4 linked regions of the Homo sapiens genome follow. The protein of the gene in region 1 interacts with the protein of each later gene in a biochemical or structural test. Each region holds a gene or a part of one and is shown on either strand. Other genes may lie near its edges.

The links.
Region 2: the proteins of LNX1 (region 1) and CD8A form a complex in vitro, tested with the Homo sapiens proteins (one study listed by BioGRID).
Region 3: the proteins of LNX1 (region 1) and NKD2 form a complex in vitro, tested with the Homo sapiens proteins (one study listed by BioGRID).
Region 4: the proteins of LNX1 (region 1) and RASL11B form a complex in vitro, tested with the Homo sapiens proteins (2 studies listed by BioGRID and IntAct, with this or other methods).

What each region holds. Positions count from the first base shown.
Region 1 is NC_000004.12:53,504,363-53,511,684, reverse strand, and holds part of LNX1 (E3 ubiquitin-protein ligase LNX), read left to right. Parts: intron 1-3,457; coding exon 3,458-3,699; intron 3,700-4,215; coding exon 4,216-4,368; intron 4,369-7,322.
Region 2 is NC_000002.12:86,787,914-86,796,123, forward strand, and holds the start of CD8A (T-cell surface glycoprotein CD8 alpha chain isoform 1 precursor), read right to left. Parts: upstream 3,001-8,210; 5' UTR 2,913-3,000; coding exon 2,864-2,912; intron 2,769-2,863; coding exon 2,415-2,768; intron 1,838-2,414; coding exon 1,727-1,837; intron 1,521-1,726; coding exon 1,410-1,520; intron 648-1,409; coding exon 617-647; intron 1-616. UniProt on the Homo sapiens protein: Integral membrane glycoprotein that plays an essential role in the immune response and serves multiple functions in responses against both external and internal offenses. In T-cells, functions primarily as a coreceptor for MHC class I molecule:peptide complex.
Region 3 is NC_000005.10:1,025,619-1,032,940, forward strand, and holds part of NKD2 (protein naked cuticle homolog 2), read left to right. Parts: intron 1-6,533; coding exon 6,534-6,594; intron 6,595-7,322. UniProt on the Homo sapiens protein: Cell autonomous antagonist of the canonical Wnt signaling pathway. May activate a second Wnt signaling pathway that controls planar cell polarity.
Region 4 is NC_000004.12:52,857,644-52,865,600, forward strand, and holds the start of RASL11B (ras-like protein family member 11B), read left to right. Parts: upstream 1-4,673; 5' UTR 4,674-4,864; coding exon 4,865-5,006; intron 5,007-5,624; coding exon 5,625-5,681; intron 5,682-6,834; coding exon 6,835-6,911; intron 6,912-7,691; coding exon 7,692-7,957.

The sequences.
Region 1 (7,322 bases):
CCTCCAACCCCAAAAGAGACAAAAATTCTGGCATTGAGTATTAACATTCTTATATTAAGACAGATTTACCTCTACTCACTTTGATAAAAGAGCTCAGGATCTCCCAAGAAAACTGATTTTTCAGAGTTGCTCATTTGAATGGACAGCACCTCCAAAGCTTGTGCTTTGGTTGAAAAGGGGTTTTCTGTGTTCCTTGTATTCATCCTTCAAGTTCATGGCCATCACCCATCACCATCTGAGAGTACTTAGTGCTCAGAGTAACTGAAAGGAAGCATAAATCCTCCTTGCTTTGAACACAACCCAGGGTTTACCGTATGTTCTTGTCCTGGCCAATGCTAATCAGCTCTTCCCCGCTTCTTCCATCTTTAATGCTTGTAAATCAAGCTGCCCCAGTATTAGTCACCACAAAAGAGATAATTAGTAAGTACAAGCTGCTACCTTCATAGATCACTCTGTCTCTGGCTCAAGCTAAGCCAAGAGACTGGAGAAAGCTAACATTACACAGTATGAGTTGCATTAGCAGAACCTTTATTACACAAAGCACGTGAGTCTGAATACTTAAATCAAGAATCTGCACCCTCCCCAGCTGTTGTAAGAACAGCTGTGATATGAGACCAAAGGAAAGGCTACTTACCTACCTTATGAGGTTTTCCTTTCCTGGACTCAAAAACTTATCTTTAGAACCCCAAGAATTTGAAAGTGCAATGGTTTCTTAATGGCATAATCTTGGGATTCAGATATTTTTAAAATACTGTAACCCCCATTGATGGGGCAGCAGAGAAAGGTGCCAGTTTCTTTTACTAGGACATGCTGTGTCCTCCCAACAAAGCCATGGCTTGTACCTTTGCCAGCCATTTGTCCAGCTGGAAAATAACGTTACTATTCTGGCAGGGCACATGGTCAAGAGCATTGCTGCCTCCTCAGAAAAGACCATTTCCAGACCAGCTAGGAACTTCCTTTCCATGCACTGCTAATCAGATACTACCAGCCTGCCTGGAAGTGTTTCATTCAAGTATTTGTTACGTTGGAGCCGCTCAAATGCAAGTTGGCTTTTATTTTTTCCATCACACAGTGTTTCACCAATTTTTGAGTTTCCCAGATCAACCTCTTCACTATGTTTAAACAGAATGATTCCAAGCCAACGCAGCTAATCGGTACAGTAAAACCTCACGAATTCAAGCCAGGAATTTGAACTCTTCCAGCTGAGGACAAGCACTAGCAGTGTAAGTTGGAGGCCTGTTTTCTCATCTAGAAGATGAGGACATAAGGTTGTATAACCAAACTCCTTTTCTACTAATATTAAAACCACATTTCATCTAATCTAAGATGCCACTGACTATGAGAGGTATGTTCATATAACAGCAAAGAAGATGACATTTTAAAATGTGCCATCAGTTAAATAATCCCCAAACACCAAAGATATCCCCATGATGCATAGATTGGTGAACTAGACTCTTGTGGCTTTGAAATCCATTCAGATGAATTTGGCAGCTTCTCCTGCCCTTGGTTGTGTTGCTTGGCATGAAATAGGCAATCCTTTTTGAATGTTCTCAATAACAAAATGTAACACCACTTTTAATTCCCTTGGGTGCATCTTTCTAAGCAGATAAAACATTTGCTTGTCCCTTTGCAAGAAAACACAGAATTGTGATTCTGCTTCTAACAATGAATATGTACTTCATCAATATCCAATTGTTCTGTTTTTGAGGCTTTCTATAACTTTTCATTTTAGTACTGAATCATTACATTCAAATGGCAATTAAACTCAATGGTGTAATACCAAGTATGTAGGCAACTCAATGGAAGTGATAAGGGGTACTCGTGCGACTGGGTTTGCAGTGCTGGGATGGTGACGTCTGCATCATGACTGCCACCTGGCAACAGAAACTTCACAACCCCATCAATCACACATGCATCCTGATTTTAGACATGTTAAAGCATGAAAAGAGCATCTTAGGATGTACAAAATATGGAAATAGCGACAATCTCATGAGAACTGCTTGTAGTCATGTAGATACCATGACGACTTTAATGAATTTGCATTCTAGTACTTTTGGCAAAAAGTACTAAACCCCTGATAAGACTTAATGTCGATCAAACCTCACAGCAATCCAGAAAGTATATGCAAATTTGGAAGTTTAGCCAGGTAAATAAAATTTCCCTAGATCACCCAGCTATGTAAATTTCAGAGCAAGGATTTAGATCTAGACAATAGGACCTTCCATCTTGCCATTTCTATGATTCTATGGGCAGTAAAAATCATGTGTGCATATCACGGTAGACTGACCTTTGATTTCATCTACTTTCAAAAACATGAAGCATCCCTGAAGTAGGATCTCAAAGGGCTATTTAAAATAGCTCAATCATATAGGGTTTTGAGTAATGAATTGATAAGAATTTATAATTAACACATCCATTATATGCAAATGGACACTTCCTAAAGGGGCTCGTGATATGATTTCTGCCTTCACAACTGTGGAAACTGGAGTGGTTACCTGTAGCTACCCTCCCCACAGTAGAGTGAGATAGTTAAATCACCATTTCCTGACCAAAACCTAGCCTGTGCGCTGCAATGACTTGCCGAGTGGCAGTGTTCATGTTCATGGCAAAATATGGACCTAGATCAGCTCCAACCTTGGTCTTCTGAGCCTCGAGAATGTTCTTTTTCAACTTCTTTCTATTGCACCAATAACTTGCTTTTCTCACAAAGTTTGGTTTTTGTGGAGTTTTCTGGATTTTTTTTTATAGCATGGATAGTGAATGGGTAGAGACAAATATGTTTTTGCTAAAAACCACAAAAGCTGTTTTACTCTCTTAATGGTAGACAACATGGCAATGAATGACACTTCTCAGATCATGGGAGCCCCCAACACCAGGGAGGCCCTCCCAGACCAGCCCAGAGAAAGAGAATGGAAGCCACCAAGCTGCCACTAGAGGATAGCAATGCTGAACTCACTCCTGTGGCTTTGTGGTGAGGGTGATTCTGTTTGCATGAACAGTTAAATATGGAATCTGGGAGGAGCTTTATATTTACGTTCAGTGCTCTGGGAACAAAATCCAAAAGAAGAGTGAGGGTGTGACTAAGGGCTTTCATGGTCAAAATAAACACCAGCAAGCAGGAATTACCAAATAGTTGAACATTGCCAGCCTCAAACCCTACTCATGTAGACACCATGGTGACCTGAATAAATTTGCATTCCAGCAGCCAATGTAGAGATTGCTTTAAGAGAATGCAGTGGGCGTCTTTAAAAAATCTCAAATTATGAATTCACTTGGTTGGCAAATGTATATTGAGTACCGATGTGTGAAAAGGGAAGAGAGGATATAGCGGCAGGCAAATCAAATTCCAAGTTCAACAAGCCTATTATACATTCTTCAATTGTATTTGAAGAGGGCTGACTGAGGAATGGCAGCAGAGCCAAAGCTCTTCTTCACCTCCCCGCTGGTTCTGTTACAGCTGTAAAGGTGCCTCCCACTACGGCCTGACCAAAGATAGGAAGAGGCGCTCACAAGATGGCTGTCCAGACGGCTGTGCGAGCCTCACAGCCACGGCTCCCTCCCCAGAGGTTTCTGCAGCTGCCACCATCTCCTTAATGACAGACGAGCCTGGCCTAGACAACCCTGCCTACGTGTCCTCGGCAGAGGACGGGCAGCCAGCAATCAGCCCAGTGGACTCTGGCCGGAGCAACCGAACTAGGGGTGAGTCAAATGGGTGGTTGTCCGGGAATGGGCTCCTTGGCTTGCGATTGCCCTCTGTGGAATACTTACTGTGGAAAGTTCTGTAAATGTTTTTTAAGGGGAAATCGTTCTGGTAGTTTTGGCAGGAACCCAATGTCCAATTCGCCAAAGTGAAATGAAACCGCAAGTACCTCCAATCATTAAAACTGTGTGTAATCTGACTTGGTGAAAGGGGCTGAAACTAGACCTAATGATTCATCACTCCTGCAGTGTCAGTAATTTTTCAGCCATGCTGCTCAAGAAAAGTGGTATTGTATTCAGTTCAGCCCAGAAACAAAAAAGAAAAGCAGGATTTTAAGCACGTCGTACATATTTCACTGTAGAAAACTTAAAAAATACAGGTAAGCAAATTCTACAATCCTACCACCCAGAGGTAGTCACTGTTAATGTCTTATTGTGTATATCTTATCAGATATGTACATAAATGATTATTTCTATTAAATCATAACTACTGTTCCTCCTGTCGCTATTCCTCAGCACGGCCCTTTGAGAGATCCACTATTAGAAGCAGATCATTTAAAAAAATAAATCGAGCTTTGAGTGTTCTTCGAAGGACAAAGAGCGGGAGTGCAGTTGCCAACCATGCCGACCAGGGCAGGGAAAATTCTGAAAACACCACTGCCCCTGAAGGTAAATGAACTCCCCATAAGGCTGGATGGACATGGGCTGGGCTTCCAGGGGGACTTCAGGGATGACGCAATCTGATCACCTTCCACCTTCTGTGACCCCTCTCTTCCCAAGGGTATACAATATTTTTTACTTTGATTAGCCTACTTCTCACGTATGTAGCTAAAGGCAGAAAGTATTATCATCTTTTTACATAGATTGAAGAAAAAAGTGTTGAAACCCTCACCTTCAGGCGCTAGTACCATTATGCATATGAGGAAGAATAATTATAATTAATGAGTGAAAAACATTTAAAACAATGACTGGCACATATAATAAATGCAATATATATATTCGCTCTCCTTACTCTTTCAACTACATTTGAGGTGTGGTGCTGAGTGTTTTACATGCATTTCCTCATTTAAGCCTCACAACAACCCTATGAGGTAGCTACTATTATTCCTCTTTTTTTTTTTTTTTTTTTAGACAGAGTTTTGCTTGTCGCCCAGGCTGGAGTGCAACGGCGGCATGATCTCGGCTCACTGCAACCTCTGCCTCCTGGGTTCAAGCAATTCTCCTGTCTCAGCCTCCCAAGTAGGTGGGATTACAGGCACCCACAACCACAACCAGCTATTTTTTGTATTTTTTAGTAGAGACGGGGTTTCTCCATGTTGGTCATGCTAGTCTCGAACTCCTGAACTCAGGTGATCCACCCACCTCGGCCTCTCAAAGTGCTGGGATTACAGGCATGAGCCACCGCACCTGGCGCCACTCCTATTCCTGTTTTACAGATGAGGAAACTGTGGCACAGAGAGGTTACTTAGGTTGCTCAAATTACCTTGCTAAACTTTGAATCCAGGTAACATGGCTGTAGAATTCATGCAAAGGAAGCTATTGAGTCTTAGATCCCATATGTTTTCCCCAATATAAGTGGAGCTGAGGAAATACTGTCCTACTGTCTTTGCATTTTATGTTAGAACTTTAGAGTAGTAGTAACAGCTTTTTTAAAAAATTGAGCTCTTTCTGCATGCACATAGTGTTTTAAGTCATTTAGATGTGACAATAATGTTAAGGGGATAGGACTATCATTCCCATTTTACAGATGAGAAAACGGAGACCCAGAGGGATTAGGTAACTAGCCCAGTCACCCAGCTAAAAAATGGCAGAACCAAGATTTTAAATCAGGTCCTCTGGTTCCAGAGCCTACTCTCTTAGCTCCTGGGTTATACTGCCCTCTACTCTTGGGAGTTGGGAGGCAGAACCCAAACCACTGTATGTATTATGCCCTCAAAATTCATGAGCAGCCTTATCAGACCTTTTCTTGTATACTTATTCATGATTGCCTCTCACCCTGCACGTACATGCTGCATGCTCTAACAGCTCTCAGCTTATTACAGTCCTATAAATGCTGTATATCTTTCTTTCACCTCCCTTCCATTATCCAGCCTGCGCTCCCACTCTCCTTTCAGCTGGCATTCACGTTCCTTCTTCCAGATTTAGTGTAAGACTTTGCCTCCTCCTGGAAACCTCACTCCCTCAGCCCCCTTTTTAGGTGTTTTTGAAGCACCTGTATCAGCGATGATCATGTTTCATGTAACTGTACCTCAAAGTGCAGGGATTATTTTTCTGAATCTTTGTTCTTAAGGCCTAGCACAGTGTCTGGCACATAAGTGTCCACTAAATGTCTGTGCAATGGCTAAATGAAAAGATTAGAACTTCCTTTCCACCAGTCTCTTCCTCTTATTAAAGACTCTTCAATTCCACTCCATGTAAAGTTCTCTACTACTTGGGCCAGACGTGGTGGCTTACTCCTGTAATCCCAGCACTTTGGGAGGCTGAGGCAGCCATATCACCTGAGGGTGGGAGTTTGAGACCAGCCTGGCCAACACAGTGAAACCCCATCTCTACTAAAAATACAAAAATTAGCCAGGGCATGGTGGCGGGCACCTGTAATCCCAGCTACTTGGGAGGCTGAGGCGGGAGAATTGCTTGAACCTGGGAGGCAGAGGCTGCAGTGAGCTGAGATTGTGTCACTGCACTCCAGCCTGGGTGACTCCATCTCAAAAAAAAAAAAAGTTATCTTGAAAAAGATTTATTTGCATATTTATTACAAAAACATTTATAAAACAGATTATTATATGTAAGGCACCGGCCTAGGTGCTGTCATTTTATATAAAGAATATAAAATGTAGTTCTTGGCATCAAGGGGTTTATTCAAGACTAAAATATAATAAAATAAAAGCATACCTCATTTTTATTTTTACAAATTGAAAGCTTGTGGTCACCCTGTAGCCAACAAGTCTGTTTGCTCCATTTTTCCAAAAGCGTGTGCTCACTTCATGTCTCTGTGTCACATTTTGGTAATTCTTGCAGCATCTCAAACTTTTTCATTATTATATCTGTTATGGTGACATGTGATCAGTTATCTTTGGCGTTACTATTGTAATTGTTTTAGCGTGCCACGAGCCATGCCCTTATAGGTCAGTAAATTTAATAATTGTGTGTTCTGACTACTTCACTGGCCATTTCCCCATGTCTCTCTTCTTGGGCCTCCGTATTCCCTGATACATAACAGTATTGAAATTAAGCCAATTAGTAACCCTACAATAGCCTTTGAGTATTCAAGTGAAAGGAAGAGCCACATGTCTCTCACTTTAAATCAAAAACTAGAAATGAACCTTGGTAAGGAAGGCATATTGAAAGCTAAGGTAGGCTGAAAGCTAGGCCTCTCGTGCCAAACAGCCAAGTTATTAATGCAAAGGAAAAGTTCTTGAAGGGAATTAAAAGTGCTACTTCCAGTGAACACATGATTTACAAAGCGAAACAGCCTTATTGCTGATATGGAGAAAGTTTGAGTAACCTGGATAGAAAAACAAAACAGCCACAACATTCCCTTAAACCAAAGCCTAATCCAGAGGAAGGTCCTAACTTTCTTTGATTCTGTGAAGGCTGAGAGAGGTGAAGAAGCTAAAGGAGAA
Region 2 (8,210 bases), on another chromosome or scaffold:
TGTGTGTGTGTGTGATCATGGGCTGAAACTGGATGAGGCAGTCACTTGAGCTGCCAGATAGCCAATTGTCCCTGCATCTCGTTCCCCTTTTTTCTACTCCAGTCCTTGGCAGCAAACCAAGGTCCTACATGACACAGAGAAGTTAGCAACCAAAGCCATTATTATTTTGGTTCAGCTGATAAAAGATTGGCTCTCCCTCAAAAAACTAGACCAGCCAAGTAGGAAAAAAAATTGTTTTCTTAAGAAAACAACAAAACCCAGATGGAATAATCAGAATAAAGAGGAGGTCAGGTCCTACGAGGAGCTAGGATAAATTGGGGGAATCCCTCAGGTTTTTTTTTTTTTTTTTTGGAAGTGCCAGGTCAAATAAGATGGAGATTTACTGGAGTCACACTGCTGTTGGCACCCGCCTAACCCGGGCCTCCTTTTTCTCAAAGACACAGGCCAGATGCCAGCCTTGGCCTCTCTTTGCTCAGGAACTGGCTGACTCCCTGCCCCAGGATTTCACGGCCATGACCTCTCTCTGGGAAAAGTTCCCACTATTTGCTGCTGGGGAAACCAGGACCCCACCCCAGGGCTGGCCAAGGTGAGCAGGCTGAGTTCAAAAGAGACTCACCGGGGACATTTGCAAACACGTCTTCGGTTCCCTGGATAAGGAAAAAGAAGGGAAAAAGTGAGTGCCCCTATCCATCAATAGTCCCCAAAGACAGTGTATTTTTTGTTGTTGCTGTTGTTGTTGCTGCTGTTTTTTGGTTTTACAAAAAATCATTTCAGAACGATCATGGGCTGAAATTGGATGAGGCAAATAGGGAATTGCCTCTACGAATTCTCCTTCCTTTCCCCTATTTCTTTGAGGATTATAACTCTTGAGAGCCGGGTAAGGGCTTCTTATCCATCCTTCGTCTCAAGCATCAATTAAAAAAAATTGCAACTACAGACGCGGGCGAAAGCGGGGAGCCTGCAGACCTGATCCGGCACCTCTCTTGCATGGGACCCAAAGCAGGGTGGGCGGTTCGCCGAAGAGGGCCAAGGACGAACCTCAAACTGATGGTGGTTTTGACTAACCCTCCTGGGCACTTGACTCGGCCACAGCGGCCCCCTCCCGGCGGGCGTTTGTCATGTGTCCAGACATGTGCGCGCGCGCTGCGGGCTTCGTCGACGGAACACACCCGCTGCAGCGGCTCTGGGAACGCGGCTTTGTCTCCCAAAACCTCTCCGAGAGCGCAAGGAGCGGGAAGGGCTTTCTCGCATTCTATCTCCCAGAAAGAAGTGCCTGTACCTGCGGGGCAGCTCGGGAGTCCCAGAAAACTCAACCCCAAGCTCCCCCCTCGCAAGGTCCGCCTGGAGCTAGCAGAGCCAAGGGCAGGAGCGGGGCCGACTCCTTCCCGCCGCGATTCCTCGGGACTTACTGTGGTTGCAGTAAAGGGTGATAACCAGTGACAGGAGAAGGACCCCACAAGTCCCGGCCAAGGGCGCCCAGATGTAGATATCACAGGCGAAGTCCAGCCCCCTCGTGTGCACTGACGACACCAAAGACGCCGACATTTAGGAGAGGGCCCGGGACCTCCCAACCGCCCCACCGTCCCGGGAACGTCTCTCCGCCTCAGATCTCGGTTTCCCACCACTTGGACAGCCCTTGACTCTACCTACAGTATCAGGGCTGTCCCTGGCATGGGCTCTCCCCGCGGTGCGTGCCGCCCCCGCCCCGGGCCCCCGCACGCCTCACCTGCGCCCCCCGCCGCTGGCCGGCACGCCTCTGGGCGCAGGGACAGGGGCTGCGACGCGATGGTGGGCGCCGGTGTTGGTGGTCGCGGCGCTGGCGTCGTGGTGGGCTTCGCTGCAAGAGCAACAGAGCGTGGTTGGGGGCCAGGCTGGGGTTATGGAGGCGCCCCAGCCCCGGCCTCGCGCACCTTTCCCCACGGGGACGCCTCCCCCCGGTTTTCCTGGGAGAAGGGATAGCAGAGGAGACAGGATGGGGACCCCGGGATGCGCGCGGACCCCTGTGCTCGGGCCTCGGCTCAGCCCAGCGCACCCGGCGCCCAGAGCCGGAGCGCAGGAGCCAGCTCCCCTGCACCTGGCCTCTCTCCCGGGCTGAACCAGCAACCCTGGAGCGCGGGTTGATTGCTGTCCGCATTTTACCCACGAGCAAACGGAGGCGCAGATAATTTAAGTCATTTGCCCAGAATCACACAAGAATCCGAACTCGAGTCCAGATCGGCCGGACGTAAAAAGCCATCCCCAGTCCCTACTCAGCCTCGCGTTAGCCTCAGTTTGCTGTGTCTGTGAAATGGGAACAGTATCTAAGTCGCTTCCAGGTGCGCTAAGAGGCTTGAAAGCAGGGCCCAGGTGTGGAAAACAGGTTGAGGTGAACCCCAAGCCCCACGCGGAGAGGTGCCGCAACCCGGCGCGCGGACCTGGCAGGAAGACCGGCACGAAGTGGCTGAAGTACATGATGGAGTTGCTCAGGGCCGAGCAGAAATAGTAGCCCTCGTTCTCTCGGCGGAAGTCGCTCAGGGTGAGGACGAAGGTGTCCCCCAACCTCTTGCCCGAGAACCGCTGGGTGTCCAGCCCCTCGGCCGCCTTGGGCTTGTTTTGGGAGAGGTATAGGAGGAAGGTGGGACTGGCGGCGGCGCCGCGCGGCTGGAAGAGCCACGAGCAGCCCGACGTCGGGTTGGACAGCAGCACCTGGCACTTCAGCTCCACTGTCTCGCCCAGGTTCCAGGTCCGATCCAGCGGCGACACCCGGAACTGGCTCGGCCTGGCGGCGTCTGCAGGCGGCAAGCAGCGAGGCTGAGCCCGCAGTCCCGCGCCCCCCGCCCCCCGCCCGCCCCATCCCCTGCCTTCCCGGGCGTCTCAAACTCACGGAGCAGCAAGGCCAGCGGCAGGAGCAAGGCGGTCACTGGTAAGGCCATGACGCGCTCCCCAGGACGCTGCTTGGCTCGAAGCTCGGGCGCGAGGGGAGGCGCGCGGGAGCCGGTGGGGCGCCGAGGGGGGAAAGTTGCGCCCTTCGGCCGGCCCGGAGCCTGATTTCGCATTTGGAGGATGTGATGTCACCCGAAGCCCCCGCCGAGGAGAGTCACCCTCCTTTTCGCGGTTGTCGCCTTCCAGCCCGGCGAGGAGGCTGGGGCCCGTGAATAGGGCCGTCGAGGCAGCCTGGCCAGGCAACTGGGGGCAGCTGAAAACTGCGGGTTTGGGGATGAGGAAAAGGGCTTGGAAATAGTCCTTGGAAATGGTTGTCTTGTGAGAGTGACAGAGTGGGTGAAGGGAGACCAAAGATTTCAAGAAGTGAGGGCGAGAGTAGGCAGCAAAGGAGGGGAGTGTCCCTTCCTTTGCCTTCACTAAAGGCGTCTCTTGTACTGTCACCTTGGGACTTTTTATTGGCAAAATGGGCACTGAGGGCTGAAAAGGAAGAGGAACTAGCGACCTGCCCGCTTCTGAGGAACTCGCTAGAGCAGCCCCAGTTTTCACCGAGGAAGGACCCTCTCCCTTCCCCCAGGAGATTTCCATGAGAGCGGCAGCAGCCGAAGCTTTGGGTGTCGGTGTCAGTGCGCTGCTGACCTCATTCTTCCGGCCTTTCATCCAGCGGCTAAACTCACCACACAGCCTCATCTCTTCTTGGAGCCATTGCAACAGCCTTCAATTCACACCAGTCTCTCTCCTGATCAGTCCTCCAGCCACGTTGTTATAAAAATTATTATTCTCACAAAGGGGATCTGACAGCGTCACTGCTGCAGCCTCCCATGGCCTGCATTGCTGGATGGAAATTCAACCCCCAGCTTGGTTGACCAGCCCTTGGGTGCTGGCTCCTCCCAGCCTCCGCACAGCCCCCTGCCCTGCCTTTCCCATACACCTGCAGCTGCAGCTTCACAGGCTTGAAGTCATTCAACCCCTGCGCTCTGTGCTTTCACGCCCTTGCACTTGCGGTCCCTCGGCCTGGAATGCTGGTCTGTTTAAGCCCTGGAGGCAGCTCCTGTGCTGTCTCATTTGGACCTCATTTCTTTCACCCCCAGCTCTGGGTGCTCTGCAGGGAGGTGTGGGTGATGTGGGTGAATGCTTGGGTAGAGGCGGTTTTCTCTTTTCTGTCCCTAACACATGTGTGTCCCCTTCCTTTTTGTTTCTTTAAAAAATAAAATAAAATAAAAAAGACTGGAGTCTCGCTGTTTTGCTCAGGCTGGCCTTGGGACTCCTGAGCTCCAGTGATCCTCCCACCCCAGCCCCCTGAGTAGCTGGGACTACAGGCTCATCTTTCCTTTTTGACTGTTGCTGTCCTGAAACCTTCCAGCTCCAGTGGCATGCCCTCTTCCCATTTCTTCAGGGTTTCTGAGTCTTTCCACTTTGAATCCCATAGTGGCTGCACCTCACATTGCTACTGCTTGATCCTAGAGACAAGACACCTGGCATTCTGTGTTCCATGTGTCTGCCCCACCCATTAGTTCTGCTGGGCGAGGACCATGCCGAGACTTCATGATGTGTCCTCCATCCCCAGAAACACAGCATGGGCTGAGCTGTGCTTGTTGAACTGCATTCTCCTTGTCCTTGTGAAGTACAAACTTAAGTGTTGGATGGGTTCTTTGTCGTTGTTGCTATTTTTTTTTTTGAGATGGGGTCTGGCTGTGTTGCCCAGGCTGGAGTGCAGTGTGGCACCACCTCGGCTCACTGCAGCCTCTACCTCCCAGGCTCAAGTGATCCTTCCACCTCAGCCTCCCAAGTAGCTGGGACCACAGGAGCACACCACCATGCCCAGCTAATTTTTTGTATTTTTGGTAGAGATGGGGTTTCACCATGTTGCCCAGGCTGGTCTCCAATGCCCGAGGTCAGGCGCTTTGCCCCGCCTTGGCCTCCAAAGTGTTGAGATTACAGGTGTGAGCCACCATATCAGGGCCTGGATGGGCTTTTTTTTTTTTTTTTAATTATTTTGATTTCAGTACCTCCTTCCAGCTCCCTCAAAGCATCCAAGATGCTTATTCTAGCATGGAACATGTAACATTTTATATTCAGAAATTTTTAAAAATGTCTTTTAAGTGACAACAGTGCAATATATTCTTGTACGAAAACAAACACAAAGTTCCCTGTCTCAACTCTCCTCACTGTCACCTGCTCCCCACAGAAAACCACTGTTACAGTTGAATGTGTCCCTTAGATATTATCTGTACATAAACAGATGTTTATACATCATCTTAGACACATGGGATTGTATGAGATAAATATTTTTTTGCAACCTATCTTGTTTCACAGTAGAAGGAGAGCGTTCAGCAGATGAAGATCCACCCCATTCTTATAAATGGGTGCATTATATATGGGTGTTCCATAATTTAATTCTGCTGTTAGTGGACATTTAGGCGATTTCTCATTATTGCAACACTAGCAAGGCTGTGGTAGATATAATGTATCTGTATCACTGAGGGCTTGCACCAGTACCTGCAGCTTTTTCAAATGGGAGATGAGGGAGTTGGGGAAGAAAACACCTTTACAATGATGGTTATAACTGGCCTATCGATGTATGCATGTGTGTGTGTGTGTGCATGGTATGAGGGTCCCTCGCTGTGTAGACACAGTGCTGTCCCTCAACTCACATGAATGAGGGAGACAAGGAAGCAATCAAGTCCAGACAGGCCACCAACACATCAATTCTTGCTGTAGATGGTAGTTTGCCATTTTGCTCAGCACCACCAGCACTGTATCAGGAGTGTCAAATGGCCCTGCTGGCCAAAGGCTACAATCAACAGGGTGGTAAGGAAGATGGCTAGACACGAAACTGCACTTGCCCAGTGGTGGAAGCACTGAGGGGGCCAGAGTCAACCTCCACCTATTTGGATCTTGAGAATCAGGCCCCTGAGTGTGATGATGGCCAGATTTGGGGGTGTACTGCTTTAAAATAGACTAGTTCCATCTTAGTCTCACGGAAATCAGCTTGGGGGCCTTCTAGCCCTGCAGCTCAGAAAAGTGTCAGCCAGTGGGGTGGCAGCCCCTTTGTACAGAGCACCATGGGGGTTGGGGTGGGGAGGATAAGGCAACATGTCAAACCCATCAAGGAGGCTTTGTGACCCCAGTGATATTTTTTGCAGAACGTGGTGGATTTTCGATGTGACCACAATGACATCCGCCTTGCAGTGGCAGAACAGATGCAATTGCACAAGTTCTGGAGAAACTTTCTGTAGACCAGGTGTGCAGAGGGCTGGGTTGGGCCTGTCCATCACTGCCAGGTAAGTTCCCAAACCCCACACTGTAGCACTGACTTGGGATGGCATGAAGAAATGTGAATGACTGCACTCCTTTAAGCAAGCCCCTTATTTAAAAAAATATCCAGAAGTAGATAGAGTAAGATAGTAACCAGTTTCTATGCTGATTTAAACTGGTCCATGGAAATGGAAAACTTTAATGTAGATTAAAGACATATTCAAAATGCAAAACCGGGCAGAGCAGTGGTAGGAAATCCATCAGGGTTCTGTGCCACTGCTCCTAAGACATGAACTGCAGGGACAACTTGGAATCATGGCTGGGAAATTGCCTGCTGTGTCCCCATCGCCAATTCAGGTCTATGGAGATGTTACTGTTCTTGGAAGGAGTTAGCTTGTCCAGGGCTAGAAACTCTAGAGTTATCAGGGCTTGTTTTATCTTAATTGGAAATACCAATCAATTTGGCCTCACTTCTGTCACCTTTCTTTTCCTCCACCCCGAGTTCCCCAAGTTCATCTAGCTGCTGTCCTTCTTTCCTGGACTTTTGCAATGGCCTCTTAACTGGCCAACCCCATTTCTGCTCTGGTCCCTTCTAGAGAAAATCTCATCATGCCAACCCCCTGCTTCAACCTGAAAGGACTTCCTGGTGTCCCTAGTAGAATGTCGGGGATCCCTAATGTTGCCTGTGAGGCCCTGCACACTTGGTTTCATAGTCTCTGTCCTCTTGTCTGTCACCTTCTTCACTCCTCCTAGGTTCCGCATCTCTCATTTCTCAAGCGGACCCTAGTCCTTTCCACTTCAGAGCCATTAAACATGCTATTCCCTCAGCCAAGAATGTTCTCACCTCTGCTCTCTGCTTACCAAACTCCTCTCCCTTAAGACCCAGCTCAAGCATCTCCTTCCTGTGGGGTTTAGCTCCTTCCCCCTCCCACTCCCAGACAGTACAGACCACATCCTTCTCTTCTCTGTGTCACCCGGACCTTGGGTATCTGCAGACTGGAGCACAATGGTTTGTTTGCCTGTCCAGCTTGACAACCAAACCCTTGGTCCCTTGAGGAAGGAGCCTTGTCCCTCTCATGTTTACACCAGGGTGCCAAACAGAGGGCTTGGCACACACTTGAGTGGCACACACTCAAGAAATTCTTGCTCAGTAAAAGCTAAAGGAAGGTAGAAGTAGGGTACAGCAGACCAGAGGAGGCTTAGATAGTTCATTCCAAGTAAGAGTGGTCAGGAAAGGCTTCACATATAGTTGGGTTTGAAGATAAAGGAAGAATTAGGAGAGAGGTTGTTTAGAATGAGGCATTTGATATGTCTGATCAAGATCAGCTGATACCATGCTTTAACATATAGCAATGGTATAGTTAAAAACAAAAGAAGAGGAGGAAGGGGAGAAGGCAGATGTACTCAAAAGCAAGATAAACGTCTTCAAGGATGTAGTTGCAGGACAATGGCTGGAATCAGGGGCTGGCTTGCTGGGATCTGTTCTTAGCAAACCATTCTTGGGCCTGGGTCTTGAGGGTCTGTTCTTAGTGTAGAGGCACCAAGAGTTTGACTCCTTCAGCTAACAGAGTTTCACAGTGCTTTGCCTATAGAGGAAGGCTGGAGCCAGGCTCTCTGCTTGAAACAGGGATTTGGATCTGATTTTCTCTTGATTGAAAGAGAGCCCACAGCCACCCATGTAAGGCCTAGTTCTGACTGTGGGCCCTGGAAAGTCAGAGGCTACTTTAAAAAACTCAGGAAAAGAGAGAGTAAAGAGAGGAAGAGATTTTCAAAAATTTCTATTCAAGATAACCCTGCACACACACTCGAAATTCAAAGTATACATAAAAAAGACTCAACAAGTGGAATGTGAATTCACTTCCAAAAAGAGGCAAATTATTGAACAATTTGAAAAATGTTTAAAACAAAGAGAACAACAAATGTAGAAAATGCAGAAATTAAAGAAGAACAGTTGAAGATGATAAATACTGAGCATACTGGAAATGAACACTCTACATATTAAACAAGGATATACTCTAGGTTGGACATAGTTG
Region 3 (7,322 bases), on another chromosome or scaffold:
CTGTGGGCGTCCCAGCCCGTTGTCCCTGCTCTTCCCACCCTCTGTGGGTGTCTCAGCCCATTGTCCCTGCTCTTCCCACCCTCTGTGGGCGTCCCAGCCCATTGTCCCTGCTCTTCCCACCCGCTGTGGGCGTCTCAGCCCATTGTCCCTGCTCTTCCCACCCTCTGTGGGTGCCCCAGCCCATTGTCCCTGCTCTTCCCACCCGCTAGTGGGCATCTCAGCCCGTTGTCCCTGCTCTTCCCACCCGCTGTGGGCGTCCCAGCCCGTTGTCCCTGCTCTTCCCACCCTCTGTGGGCGTCCCAGCCCATTGTCCCTGCTCTTCCCACCCGCTGTGGGCGTCTCAGCCCATTGTCCCTGCTCTTCCCACCCGCTAGTGGGCGTCTCAGCCCATTGTCCCTGCTCTTCCCACCCTCTGTGGGCGTCCCAGCCCATTGTCCCTGCTCTTCCCACCCGCTGTGGGCGTCTCAGCCCATTGTCCCTGCTCTTCCCACCCTCTGTGGGTGCCCCAGCCCATTGTCCCTGCTCTTCCCACCCGCTGTGGGCGTCCCAGCCCTTTGTCCCTGCTCTTCCCACCCTCTGTGGGCGTCTCAGCCCATTGTCCCTGCTCTTCCCACCTGCTAGTGGGCGTCTCAGCCCATTGTCCCTGCTCTTCCCACCCGCTGTGGGCGTCCCAGCCCTTTGTCCCTGCTCTTCCCACCCGCTGTGGGCGTCTCGGTCCATTGTCCCTGCTCTTCCCACCCTCTGTGGGCGTCTCGGCCCATTGTCCCTGCTCTTCCCACCCGCTGTGGGCGTCCCAGCCCTTTTTCCCTGCTCTTCCCACCCTCTGTGGGCGTCTCAGCCCATTGTCCCTGCTCTTCCCATCTGCTGTGGGCGTCTCAGCCCATTGTCCCTGCTCTTCCCACCCGCTGTGGGTGTCCCAGCCCATTGTCCCTGCTCTTCCCACCCTCTGTGGGTGTCCCAGCCCATTGTCCCTGCTCTTCCCACCCACTGTGGGTGTCCCAGCCCTTTGGGTTCCTTGGGATCCAGACATCACCCTCAGCCTTTTCCTGAGAGGCCCAGCTCCAGCCCGTGTGCCATATCCCAAAGCTCCCCTCCCTGAGCCACCTGCCAGGCACTCACTTCATTCTACCACGTCCAGCATCCTCCCAGCCCCCGAGGCAGGAGGTCACTGCTGGCCTGGACGTGGCCTTGGTCCTGCCCAGCCGCATCCCAGGTGCCTCCCGAGTGCCCTGAGGTGGCGGTGGCTGCAGCCTAAGCTTGGCAGGCGCCTACCTTGCTCCTCACCACTTGGCATCCTGCCTGAGCCCCACAAACTGGCCCTCGATGCCACGACAGCCCCGTAATTCTGGCAGCCTTGGGCCTGGCAGCCCAGTTTGTAGGATTAGCCCTGCAGAACAGGGTGGCCACAGGGGTGGTGACAATGACCACAGGACATGGGCCAGGCTGTCACCCCGGCCCTTCTTTCCAGCTCCTGGGGGCCCCCTGGGCACAGCTCGAGAGCCACTGCTTGACCTGCCAAGGACAGGGAGGTGCACCAAGGCCATTTCCCCAGTGGCAGAAACTTCGAGCCAGGGGCTCCACCCAACAGGGCCGTCCCCACCACAGTGCAAGGTGGCCAAGGCGCTGGGGAGCCAGAGTGCAGCCTGGGAGGTGCCTATGGATCTAGGGGTGCCAGGTGCTGCTGGTGGCGATGAAAGCTGTAGGAGAGGCCCGTCCTGTGTCAGGCGGTGTAGGAGCTGTGCCTTCTGGATAACGTCCCAGACTTGGGGTTCCACACCCACTCCAGAGGGACCCGGGAGCCCCGAGGTCTGGAAAATGCTGCCCGACACGCCCACCCAGTTCTCTGAAGCCTTCCTCTCTGTCTCTCTCCTCCCTCCCCGCTCCCTCTCCTCTGCCTCGGCTCCCATCACCTCCACCCTCCCAACTCGTGGGGAGACGTTGGGCTCCAGGGGATGCTCCCAGCCTGGCCTCCTGGACACGCTGTGGCCTTTGCCTGTTGATCGGGGTTGGTATTTCTAGAACCCTAGACCAGGGTTTAGGTCATGTCCCAGAGGGCCGTGACTTCACTGTGGACACCCGTGTGTTTCCCACCGGGCGTTCCACCAGAGCTGTGGCCAACAGCTGCCCTCACGAGGCCCAGGAGGGGACAGCGCCTCCTTGCATTTGCGAGACCTGGGAAAGGTGCCTGGCCGTGCCCACCTGTCCACTGGGAAGAGGACATCGCCCGCTCCAGGTGGCTCCCAGAGGTGCCTGCACCGGCACTTCCAGGTTGAAGGCCACCAGGATGATACCTGTGTTGCAGCTGCCTGGCGCCTCTGCAGGGGTTCCGACAGACGGGGTGGCTCTGGGGGGCAGTGGTGCTCCAGCTGCTGGGCGCTGCCGAGCGCTGGCACGTGGGGAACACACTCCTTTTGACTTTTCCAAGGAAGCTGGGGGTTGAGGTTTTGTGAGCGTCTCTCCGTGCCTGGCCGCCTGTGGAGGCTGTGGTTTGCATCTTACCGTCTGGGCTGGGACCAGGACGGGGGCTGGGTGCTGGGAGGACGAAGCGCTCAGCCCGGTGCCTGTGGCGGGGATCAGATGTCCTCACTGTCGTGGCGGGGACGTGGACGGTGGCCTCGGGGTGGTTGGCTCACAGACCAGGGTGGCCTTCCTGAGCATCCCGTAGGGCCGTGGGACCTGAAGCAAAGGCTACCTGTTGTTGACGCCGTGTGACAGACGCCTGCTGCTCATGCAGCTGCGAGGCTATGGGTTCTGGTCCCGGAGGCCTCCGTGGGTTGGGGTCAGACCCTCCTCCCAAATCTGAGGTGATGCTGAGTGAGGGAGTGGGGTTGAGCTGCTCAGGCAGATGCGGCTGCTTTCCTTATGGGATGAGGCCCCACGGGGCAGGCCCACGGTCGGGTTCCTGTCCTCCCAGGGGCCAGGAGAGCCCCCGGCATCACAGGAGGATGCCATGGGCGGGAGGGGACAACGGGCATGGGGAGGTCTGCAGGCCAGCCGTGGGGTCCCTGCTGACCTGGAGGGTTCTCAGGGATGCAGAGCAGTGGGACAGGCTAGAGGAGGCGCCTAGGCACCCCAAACCGGAAGTGCAGCTGGGACAGGAAGGGGGGCGGAACAGGTTGGGGGATCACAGGAGGGTCTCGCTAGGGACAGGGCCAGAGGGATTGAGGGGGAGGGTTGGGCCCTCGGGAGGGAGTGAGGGTAGGGTGGGTCCTCAGGAGGGCGAGGCCAGGTGGGGGCTGCATCTCAGGGAGGGGCGCCCGCCCTGGGAAGCTGAGGCTTTGGTGGGTGCCGGGGCACATTGGGCCAGGCCTGCTGGGATCCTGTGTGCGGACTTGGCCTCTCAGAAGGTCTTCCCAGTGGGGAGGGGCTGCACATCTGGCCAGCGGCCCGGGGGCAGGTTTTATAAGTTGCAATTAAAGCTCTTGGCCTTCTAGTTAACCGAGGCAGCGTAGATTAAAGGGCAGTTTTATGCAACCAGGACGGATCTGATGAAATCACCAGCCACAGAGATTGGAGTGGCTTTGACTGTAGATGCTCATTTTTTCCCGTTTGATCCTCCCTGCATCTCAGAGGTAGCTGTTGACCTGGGTCTTAGAAAAAACACTGTGCGTTCGAGCGCTGAGAATTCTAGGGAATAAGGGGATATTTTTTCAATGTGGTTTTCCTCTGTGTTAGGAACTCAGTCATGGGCTGGTTGGTGTAGTATTGGCTGGTTGATACAGCGTTGGCTGGTTGGTGCAGCGTTGGCTACATGGTGTAGTTTTGGTTGGTTATTACAGTTTTTATTGGTTATTGTAGCTTGGCTGGTTGGTGTAGCGCGCGGAGCGTTTCCAGACATCAAACCACGGGTCTGTGCAGATTCTGTCTTGAACAGCTGCGCCCCTCCTTCTGTCACCCTGTGCATTTACACTCCTGTCTGTAACCAGTGAAATCCCCCACAAGTGCGCTCAGAATTTTTAGAAACACGGCACGGGCTGCGTTTACATTTTCACTGTATTAGCTTTATGCGTGGAGTGCGTGATGTGCTGTTTCTCACTTGACATGTTCAGCAAATCGTGGGAAACACTTAAAAATCCTTAAAAAATACTCCACCCCGTCCAACCCGTCGCCCGCTGCCTGTCCTCAGGAGCCACCGCACCTCCGGCTCCTCTGAGTTCTGGCACTTTCCAGGAAGCCACTGCTGCTGCCCCTCATCTGGGCAGCGATGTGGCCTCCATGAGTGACCTCAGTTAAGGCTCTTTAGCAAGGAGTGCTGTACGCGCTGGCCCTCAGGCCCCAGGGCACCTCACTGCTATCTGTAAGGAGGCTCAGGGCACCCAGCACCATGCAGGAGGCCTGAGCTCTGCCTGCTGGTCTGATGGGAGGTGAACTGGGTGCCTGAGGGGGGATTGTGGTGCGGGGGGGGGGGTACTGAGAACCCTGGGGGCTTCACCACACAGGTCCCCTGCACCCTCCCCACATCCCAGAGGAGAAGGTCTGGGCTGGAGCTCCCAAGGGTAGACAGGGATGCCTCGGGGCACCCACCTCAGCATTTAGGGTCACCTTCCCCTCCCTACCAGCCCTCCACAGTGGCAGTGCCTGCGTCCCTCAGCCTGGGCATTGGTGGTCTTGGCTGCCCCCCTCCACAGTGACAGTGCCTGCGTCCCTCAGCCTGGGCATTGGTGGCCTTGGCCCCCCTCCGCAGTGGCAGTGCCTGCATCCCTCAGCCTGGGCATTGGTGGCCTTGGCTGCCCTTATGACACCATTTCTGTCGGCAGCCACCTCCAAGCACCTGCACGAGTCCACCTGAGGGGCTGTAGAGCTCCTAGTATCTGGTCCATCCCACGAGGATTCTGTGCCCATGGGGGCTGCAACTCTGGGGCTCTGGGCACTGCTCTGCACTCCATGGAAGCCCACGACTGCAGCCTCACCCATTATTCTGATTTTGAAATAAATAAATAAATAACTACAGCCTGGGTTTTAGAGATGATTTGGTTTTATGCCAGCGTCCACCTGGACAGAGCTTTTCCCTCACAGCGGTGCCTCCCTGCTGTGTGGATGTACAAAGGCCTCGCCGGGCTGGGCTCATGGGGCCCCTCAGGCTGCAGCAGCCAGTCCCGGAATGTCGGGACTGCAGCCCCCAGGAGGGAGGCCTACTTTTTAATAATCAGCTGTTTTGTTTCTTATTAAAATGAGGGCAAGCTCTCCTGCCTCCCGCTGGGAGCTGCCCACCCTGCCTTGGCACCGCCCTGGGCGGCCAGCAGGAGACCTCAGCTCTGGGGGGCCCTTGGCTCAGCCACAAGGGGGGCTGGGGGCCTGGGTCTCACTCAACAATATTCAGCCTCGGCAGCGCCACCTTAGTGCCCATGTGTGGGTGGGGGTCTGGTCCCTCTCTCCCCACCCAAGTTCTGGGGTGGCAGCTGGCCAGCCTGGAACCTTCCACCATACCCTGTTTGGACCCTGGCCAGTGACCACGGTGGCAGGAGGCGCTTGGGGGGGTCCAGGTGCCCTCGAGGGTGACCCTGCTCAGCCTCCTGCCTGGGCCAGACTCCAGGAACCCCAGGGACCCCGGCAGGGCAGACAGCCCCATAGGAGGTCAGAAGAGATGAGGGGCACATGACCCCTGGTCAGGAGGAAAGGATGAAGCCGTGGGGACTGTGAGGGCAGTCCCAGCTGGGCAGCCCTGGGGTCCTGTGTCCACCCACGGAGACACCAACTCGGCACCAAAGTCATCTCCAGGGTCAGGCTCTGGCCGTCCAGGTGGACGGGACTGAGCTCTGTGCTGTATCTCCTTGTGGGCTTTCCACGGCTTTCCAGGGACCTGGAATCAGAAGCAGAAACACAGCTGCCCATCCCTCCCGCCCGCCTGCCCGAGAGCTGCCTGCTCTCAGGAAATGCTCCAGGGCGGTGTGTGCTGGGCCGAGGGGCTCCGCACCTCCACCACTGCGCAAGGCCCCTGCCCTGACCACAGGTCTGTCTCCTTCTCTGTGTCCTGAAGGCTGCAGATTATTCATGAGAACCATGTGAGCTTCGGCTCAGCTGAAACACCGCTGGGATGTGTTTGAAGTTTTTCCCCATTTTCCGTAACTGGTCTCGGCCGGCAGCCCTATAAGAGGCATGTTGGGGTCCTGGGCAGCCATGCGGGCAGCGGCTGGAGTCCTCGTGTCAGGCTCCAGTGGGCAGTGCTGGGAGCAGGCCCCAGAGCAAAGGGGCAGTGTGTCTCCTCTTGCATTTAGGGTAATCCAGCATGGGGGCCCTGGCCAAGGGGATCCCCAGGGCAGCACTGACTGAAGGGGTCATTCCAGGCAGCTGCATCTTCTACCTGGAAATGCTTTGGGGAACCTGACAACACAGGAATGTCTGTGTGTTTTGCTTCCTAAAATCTGAGGCTGAGTGGGGCACGAAGGGTTGGTGTTTCTGGACCCAGAGATTGAGACGCCCCAGGAGGCCTGAGGCGAGTGTCAGGCTCCAGTCCAGCCGCCCAGAGCTCCTGCCCATCTCCCCCGCCTGCCCACTGAGCTATGTGGCCACTGACTGCCCCGTTCTTCCTGCAGGAGCTGCCCAATGGGGACCCCAAGGAGGGGCCTTTCCGGGAGGACCAGTGTCCCCTACAGGGTGAGTGCAGCTCCCGCAGCCCTCCCTCCCCAAACTCACAGACTTCATCCCGTACCAAGGCAACGCCGAAAACCACCCTTAAAACAACCCCGTGTGCGGAGCGAGGGCACTTCCCAGGCTTAGACGCACTTTGTTCTTAAAAAGCCTTGGCAGCACAACTCACAGGGTCCTCGCTGGACTGGCAGCTGCGATCTGGCAGCAGAGACCAAAAAGGCCTGTCCCATGGGCAGAGCCCTAAGCGTTACCTTTATGTGTTTGGAGTCTCTGTGAGCCTGTGTTTGTGGATGGGGGTGGCTCTGTATAAAGGGGACCTGTGAATTTTCAAGTTAGCCCTGGGCTGGAGGATGTGTGAGATGCTGGCCCAGCCTAAGTCACTGCCACGCGTGTATGCCTCAGTGGCACCAGTCCTACCTGTGGCGCGTGGCAGGTCAGCACTTGGCTTACCTGTGGGTCTGTGGGAGGGTGCTGGGAGGCCAGCAAGCAGGGCCACCTTCGGATGGCTGCTGAAGCCAAGAGAGGCACCCACACCCCCTCAGTGGGAAGGCAGGCCCAGAGCATCGTCCCAGCTCAGGCTCGACGTGCACCTGTCTGCAGGTGCTGAGCCCGGACAGTCCCACACTCCTATCCTGGGGACGCAGCTTGCAAGTGCTGGAGAATAACGGAATAATTGTGCTCCAGAAACCAGAGGACTGTTCATCCATCCTGCCCAGAGGCTGCGGGGAGGGGGC
Region 4 (7,957 bases), 650 kb from region 1:
TTTGGATCAATAGGGCAGATCCATTATGAATGGTTTGGGCCATTGCCTTGGTGATAAGTGATCTCTTGCTTTGGCTGGCACCTCCCCCCCTGCTTTCTCTCTCTCTGTGGCTCCTGCTTTTGCCATGTGATGTGCCTGCTCCCCACTCACCTTCTGCCATGATTGTAAGCTTCCTGAGATCTCCCTGGAAGCCAAGCAGATGCCAGCACTGTTTCCTGTAAAGCCTGTGGAACCATGAGCCAAGTAAACCTTTTTCTTTTCTTTTCTTTTCTTTTTTCACCTTTTTCTTTATAAATTACCCAGTCTCAGGTATTTCTTTAGAGTAATGTAAGAACAGCCTAACATAGGTGTCAATACATACTACATAAAAGCAACGACAACAGTGGTCTTGAATATGGTCTCAAAGCAATCAATTCAAAAAGAACCTCATTATACCCTTTTATAACTGAAAGTTAAATGTCTACTGGGACATGATCTGTCCTTTTCTGGGCCTTTGTGTTGTTTGGGCTGCTAGAGAAGAGTGGAAGAAATGGTGAATTCACACTGAGTTCCTGTCTATCTGTTTCCAGTGTGTCTTCATGTACTGCCAGGACTAGAAAGGTAAACATGACATTTCCTAGACTCCCTTGCAGCTAGAGTAATAGATAAAATGAATTTCATTAATTAGATGTGCTCAGAGATTTGAAAGGCAGAAGCAAGGAGGAAAGATTCTTTCTGCTGCTTGATTGCTTTCTGCTGCCATGCACAATTGAGATATTGGGCTTCTGTGCAGCAACTTTCCAATGTCTGGTCTCTAGCTTTGTGAGTTTTGAGAGAGAATAACAGAGGCAGCCACTGTGTTCCCCTGATTATGGAAGAGGCAGCAGCTTCCTGCGTGGGCCAGTTCTGCAGTGCTGCTCTGGGAGCCATTTCTGCAGGTCCAGCCTAGAGCCTGCTACTCCAGCCCTTCCAAAGACATTGAAAGCAGGTAATTTCCTGTATTAAATCGTCTTCTGCTTAAAACCACTAAAGAGTGTCTGTTTACTGGATCTAAACAAGCAGAGTTGACAAAAGTCTCAAGAAAAAATAAAGTCTGGTTCTTGCTCAAGGCCTGGATGTTCAGAGAGGGCTGATTTGGGAGCAACTCCTGGTGATGTGGGCAGAGGAGCAGCTCATTTGGCTTCCATGCGGGCATGTTCCCATGGAAGAAGGGAGCACCAAGGCAACTTCTGGAGCTTTTCTTATCAATATGAGGGCTCCTCCACAGAAATCACCAGGGCTTTTCTCTCTGTTCACCCATCAGGAACTATCCTCCGTTCCTTTAATTCATTTTCTCAATGTGAGGCCTTTGCTATATTCACTTATGCTTTCATTTATAATCCACAACTATTTACTGAGCACCTATTGGCAAGTGCTATTCTCTTGCGAACTAACCCATCTTGCCCCCTCCTAACTCCCTGCTCCATACTCCCATGTACATGCACACACATACATGCACACTGTACACAACACACAAACTTCTCAACTCCTTCACCACCCCCTCCTTGACTGCCACAACCCAGGTTTTTAGTCCTAGTTTGTGCTTCTGTAATTCCTGAATTTTCCCTATCAAAGTGTTTTCTCACACTGTATTGAAATTGCTCATTCACTTCAGTCTCTCATGCTAAATGTAGCTGCAGGGATGGCAAAGGTTGCATTTCTTATTTGCCACTGTAGACTCAATACCTAGCATAATGTCTGGTATACACATAGCCCAGACATCCAATAAATATTTATTGAATTCATATTCTGGCATTCTAAGGGCTTCCAGGGACTGAATTGTCTGGGCTAAACCTCTTAAGATCAAAGGAAGTGCTAGAAACTCCAGATGCTGAGGTAAAATTGAACCTTGGCAAAATACTTCTTTCTTTTCTTCCCAAACCCCTCCTCATGTTTCAATTCCCCATCCTCATCTCTTTTAGCTTGACAAAAAAAAAAAAAAAAAAAAAAAAAAAGAAAAGGCTCTGTCCCTTGCAGGATATGTAACTTTGGAAGAGTTTTTTAACCCGAGACTTTGCTTTCTCACTTGTAAAATGGAAGCGTAGTGAATTACAGATGGCCACACATTCTTTGACACCATTCCCACTTAAAGATAGGATCGATGTTCCTGCCCCTTGATCTTTAATCTGGGTGGGCTCTGTGACACTTGACCAATAGAACAGAGCAGAAGTGATGCGGTGCCAATTTCCAAGTGTAGGTCTTAAGAGACTAGCAGCTTCTACTTGGTTTCTTAGAATGCTCACTCAAAGGGAAGCCCGTCACCATGTTGTGAGAGAGCCTGAGCTAGTCCCAGCTGTTCTGCCCATTCCAGCTGACACACAGACATATGAACGAAGATACCATCTTGGATGTCCAGCCTAGTTGAGCCTTCAGATGATAGCAGCCCCAGCTGCCATCTGACTGCAACAACATGAGAGACCCTAGGTAAGCACTCCCCAGCTAAGCCTAGTCAACACACAGAACTGCGAGCCACTAAAGTTTGGGGTGGTTTACTAAGCAGCAATAGATAACGGCAACTAGAAGTAATGGTAATACCTACCTCATAGGACTGTTATGAAGGTAAAATGAGATTTTTAAATGCAAAACCCCTGTGTACAACCTAGAATGAAACAAGCGCTCATTATGTATCGTCACTTCTCCTGCCTTGCCTCCTTCCTCTTTTTAACTCTATGAATGTCCCAGAAGGAGAGGTAGGTGGAGTGGAGATGGGCTATATGCTAGGTATTTGGAATTTGAATAGCTCTCTTTTCTTTTTTACATCTTTCTCTTGCTTCTCTCTTTTCTGTGTTCTTTAAAGCATAGCCAGATCATTTAGATCTAAAATAAGAACACCAAATCAAGCCTTTGCGTTGCAGACAGAAAAATCACGGGTTTTGTATGGGCTTATGGTAATGAAAATCAAGCCCAAGAAACTAAATGATTCAAAGCAAAATTCCCCTTGACAGCTTTTGTCATGTCTCTGTGTGTGTGTGTGTGTGTGTGTGTGTGTGTGTATGTTAAACTAGTACTTTAGCCTACATCATTATTTTACCATGTAAGCATGATAGAATAGCAGGCTTTTTGGAGGGGAAAGATTTTAAAAGTACATGGTTACCTGTAATTACAGTCTTGCAAAGTTTGATTTTATAGAAGTGACATTCAAGTCTGATTTAAACCATGCAGAAAGACATGGTGCATATTGGAAATGCTTTTTCTTTCTGACTCAAATGGCTGTTTCGTTCTAGTGATCTCCCTAGAAGTCAGCCTTTTATTATGTTTATTGTAAGGTTGTGTGTCTTTCTAATTACGTGGCCCATCCTAGAAAACTTGCTACCTTGAGATTACCTTTCTATTTCTCCTTGCATTCCTGCAAACACCTAAACCTCTGTAGACAAGAGGTTCATCTCAGAGTCTGAACTGGCTGAGGATCATAAAATTCTGTCAAATACCTGGTCAATTAAGTTCTGGCTGGAAGAGGGGGTCAAATTAGATGACTGACATGTGCGGATAAGGGCACTGGTTTATTTCACATTTTAGCCTTTAATGTGGGTGGGTACACAAAGCCACAGAGTTTGTTGCCATACCCCAACATAAAAGCCTCTGGGACAAGGTTGAAAGGGTAGCGGGGAGAGGGCCTTGGATAGCGGATGGGGTGGTTAACCCGCGACTCTGGTGACATTTTGCCATCAGCCGCTGGTGACATCTTGCCATCAGCTGCAGCTACAGAATGTTGCTCGCAGGAGGAATTTGGCCTGCCGTTGAAGATGTGTTTCTCAGATGAGACTGTAAGGGGCCGGAGCTTGGGATTTTAGGAGTGCAGGGCCCACCTCTTCCTTGGTATCAAGCCACTTAACTAAACTCTTGCGGTGTCTTATGACCAGGGACGAAGTGCGGGGCCCCTTCAGACGTCGCAGCTGGAGTAACTGTTTTCTTTCCATTTCACAGCTCTTGAAGGAGGTGTGACTGAGTGAGGCGCTGGAAAGCTTGTTCTATAATTACTTCTTGATCCGCTTCTAGGCGTGCTGTGCATGCGTCCGACCATGTGTGTTTGCGTTAGCTTGCGCCGTCGACAAGAGCCAGAGAACGTGGGTCTAGGATAAAACGTGGATGATATTTTTGCTTCAAATGTCACATTTTACGGGGGTCTAAAGGTCTTAGGCTGGAGTCTTTGCGGATGATTGCCAACTGTAGCTGAATCTATGAGCTGGGATGTACCCAAGCCAGTGCAATCGCTCCAAATCAGGGCGGGCGGCACTAAGCCGGGGAGCAAACACCGCTCCCGGCCCGCCCAGAGCAGACGCCCTAGGTTGGGGCTGCAGCGAGTGCGCGCGTGGGCTGTGGAGCCGGCGGAGGCAGCGGTCCGGAATGGCTCTGTGGAGGCTGCGCTCTCTTCCTGGCCCCGCAGCCACAGCAGCTGCCCCATGCTCGCGCGGCAGGACCTACCAGGCGCCCACCCTGGGCTGCGCCGCCTCGGACCACCCGCTGCTCCCCTCCGCCCGCTGCCTCTTCTCCCCGCGCCTCACGGGGCTCCGCACTGACTCCAGGCGCCTCCGGGGGCGTCGCGCGCGCGGAGCGGCGCCGGGGGCGGGGCCTCGTGTAGGGCGCCCCGGGATTGGCTGTGGGGAGAGGGGGCGGGGCCGGCCGCGGAGAAAACAGCCGGCGCGCCGCGCGAGTGCAGTCTGGGTCTGGAGCCTGAGCCCTGCGGAACCTCGGCGCTCGGCCCCACCCCGCCCGTACCTGCACTTATTTATTGTTGTTATTTCTTACCGCGGAGCCCCGCAGTCGGGTCCTCCCGCCCGCTCCCGCGCAGCGCTAGCATTCTCCAGTCCCTCAGTCCCTTCCCGCGCGGTGCGCCGCAGCCGAGGCGATGCGCCTCATTCAGAACATGTGCACCATCGCCGAGTACCCCGCGCCGGGCAACGCCGCGGCCTCCGACTGCTGTGTGGGCGCCGCCGGCCGCCGCCTGGTCAAGATCGCCGTGGTGGGCGCCAGCGGCGTGGGCAAGACCGGTGAGTCGTCGCGCTTAGCCCTGGGTCTGGTCTTGGACGACCCCTGACGGGAGTTGAGGCTGAACAAGGCGTGGGGAGCGGTGGGAGCTGCAGCCCGACCGCTCTCCGTCCCCGCGCAGGGAGCCGCTGCCCCTTGGGAGTGGGCTTAGCCGTTGTCTACGCCACCCGCCTGCTTCCACAGACGGGGGAAACAAGGATCAAGAATGGCCAGGCAGCTTTCTGGGGACCACCGGCACCGCCGCCATCAGAACTTTGGGGTGTTTGAGCCTCTGGCAATGCCTGGCACAGAAAGGGGAGTTAGTGAAGCTAGCCCCCCTGGGAGGTCTTGAAGGTTAGGAAGACATGGGTCTACTGGAAGGCTTAGGTGTGGCTCAGCCGGGCTCAGAGGAGGGGGTGGGCCCAGTGAGCCTTCCAGCTGCACAGAGCCATAATTCACGATGCCTTCTAGCCCCCTCCTTTTTGTCTGGAAAGAAGGGTCAAGGAGCTACAGGGTAGGAATTTCACTTGGTGGCCATCTATGGCTTTCTTTGGGAGAACTGTTTTCCAGGCAGGGGGTGGGGTGGAGAACAATCTAACTTCCAAGGTTAACACTTTGACGTTCTTTTTTCTGACGTGCAGCACTGGTGGTCCGGTTCCTCACCAAACGATTCATCGGTGACTATGAAAGAAATGCAGGTGAGACAATGCATTTGAGAAAAATTCTGTCCCATTGCAGGAGGACTGCGGTTCCCATTTTCCAGCGCTTCCCAGGGAGGTTCTTTCAGTGACAGTCCGAGCCTGAGGATCCCGCCACTTAAAACTTTCCCCAGTCCCCAGCCCTCCATGGCGCCCCCCTCCCATAACTACCATCTGGCCTCATTCCATTCCAAGCCCATTCATCATTTTATCAAGTGCCTGAAAGTATTCCCCTTGGTATGTTTTAACTATAGTGACCCCAGTTGGAAGCACCCTTTGTAGTCAAGAACCTCTCCCTTCAAAACACTCCTGCAAAAGTCGTAAAAAAAAAAAAAAGGAGTCCCTAGCTCCTTCCCCCACCCCTCTCCTTCTCTGCTGGCTGCCTTTCAGAGGTGACCTTTTAAAGCAAAGGCCAAAGGAGAGCAGTTGTAAACCTAAAGTTCCTCCTTCTTAACAAAGACAAACAACTGGATGGTAGAATTTTAGGAGGAGAATTCCCGAATAAATGAGAGGACACATTTTTCAATCCTTATGATTAAGAATAGCCACTGGGGAGGCTTAAGAGCTTTCTGCCTATGCTCTGTTAGCAAATTGCTTAACTCTGTAGACCATATGAGTACCTATAGGGGATTATTTGAAATGAGCTGTATAAGCTATCCCAAGATAAGACATGGCAGCCTTCTGATTTGATGTAGAGTTGATTATAATTATATCACATTTTTATTCCAACTGATAACATTGGCTGTGTGTTTACTAACAGTATTTGTCTAGCAAGCCATTATATCTAACGGCCAAAATACAAAGTTACAGTCAAAGAATGAATCAAGTACTCAAGAAAACAGAAACCTCACATAGGCTGAGCAAGATAATTTGCATCAAGGGAGTACTCTAAAAATGGAAACTTTGTTTAAAACTAGATAAATAAGTTTTCAAAAACTTGCAAACTTTGCCCTGGTTTTAATAAATCTAACATAGGGTTAAAATTGCTGTTGTTTTTTAAAAAAAATCTGAAGTAAGCCCACCAAATAGAAATAAACTATCGCTGTTTTGTGTGCATTTATGCATTGTGCATTTTTTTTCTAGCTTAAAACTCACAATGTTTTAAAAGTTGTACAAGAAGGAAGAACATAATCTCTTTTATTTGCCTTCATAGGTAATCTCTATACTAGACAAGTTCAGATAGAAGGTGAAACCCTGGCTCTTCAGGTTCAAGACACTCCAGGTATTCAGGTGAGAAGCTCTGAGACTCTGGGTGAAAGGGGAACCTACTTGGCTGTGGAATCACTCACTTCTTCTCAAAGTTCCTCATGCTGCAGGATCAGAGAAATTTGGGGAGTCACATCTAGACTTTTACATGTCTGACAATTCAATTGTATCTGGCTGTTGGTCGATCTTAGCATGGTTTAGTTTGGGAGATTTGGCTAGGGGGCAGAAATCTTCCTTTAGAAGGATTCAACACAGCCGGAAAGCCCAAACCGAATGCAGTTGGAATTGGTGTTTTCCTTGCTGTGGTTTAAAAGTCCAGTTTTAATATGTGTGTCTTTGGCATGAAAAACCAAGCTTCTGGGTATAGTCTGCAAATACTTGGAATCGCTTTTGTACTGGAAAGTTGCTCTATAGACAAAAGCGCCATGCTAGGGTTTTTCCCCCCGCCTCCTGAACTGGGCAGTTATCCAGGTTTAAATGCTTCCAGCTCCTATCTTTACTTCCCCAGACTTACTGTCTAGCCAGTTAATTTCCCATTTTGTGCAACTACAAAGTCGCTCTGCATGGAGTTCTCTGCAGGTCAATTTTCCACTTGAGTGTGGTAAGCTGCACTGTTATTTATTCCCACTCTGTGCAGCTGGATCAACATATTGTCAAGAAAGCTGAAGTGTGTGGGATATAAGTTGTTTATGGCCCTCAACCTGGCACTACTATGAAGGGCTCTTTTGAATTTGAAATCTACCCAAGCCCAGGCTCTTTGTACAACTGGCCAGCATTCACCTTGCCATCACTCCTCTCTTTCAGGTCCATGAGAACAGCCTGAGCTGCAGTGAACAGCTGAATAGGTGCATTCGCTGGGCAGATGCTGTGGTGATCGTTTTCTCCATCACTGACTACAAGAGCTATGAACTCATCAGCCAGCTCCACCAGCACGTGCAGCAGCTACACCTGGGCACCCGGCTGCCTGTGGTGGTCGTGGCCAACAAAGCTGACCTGTTGCACATCAAACAGGTTGACCCTCAGCTTGGACTGCAGCTAGCCAGCATGCTAGGCTGCTCATTCTATGAAGT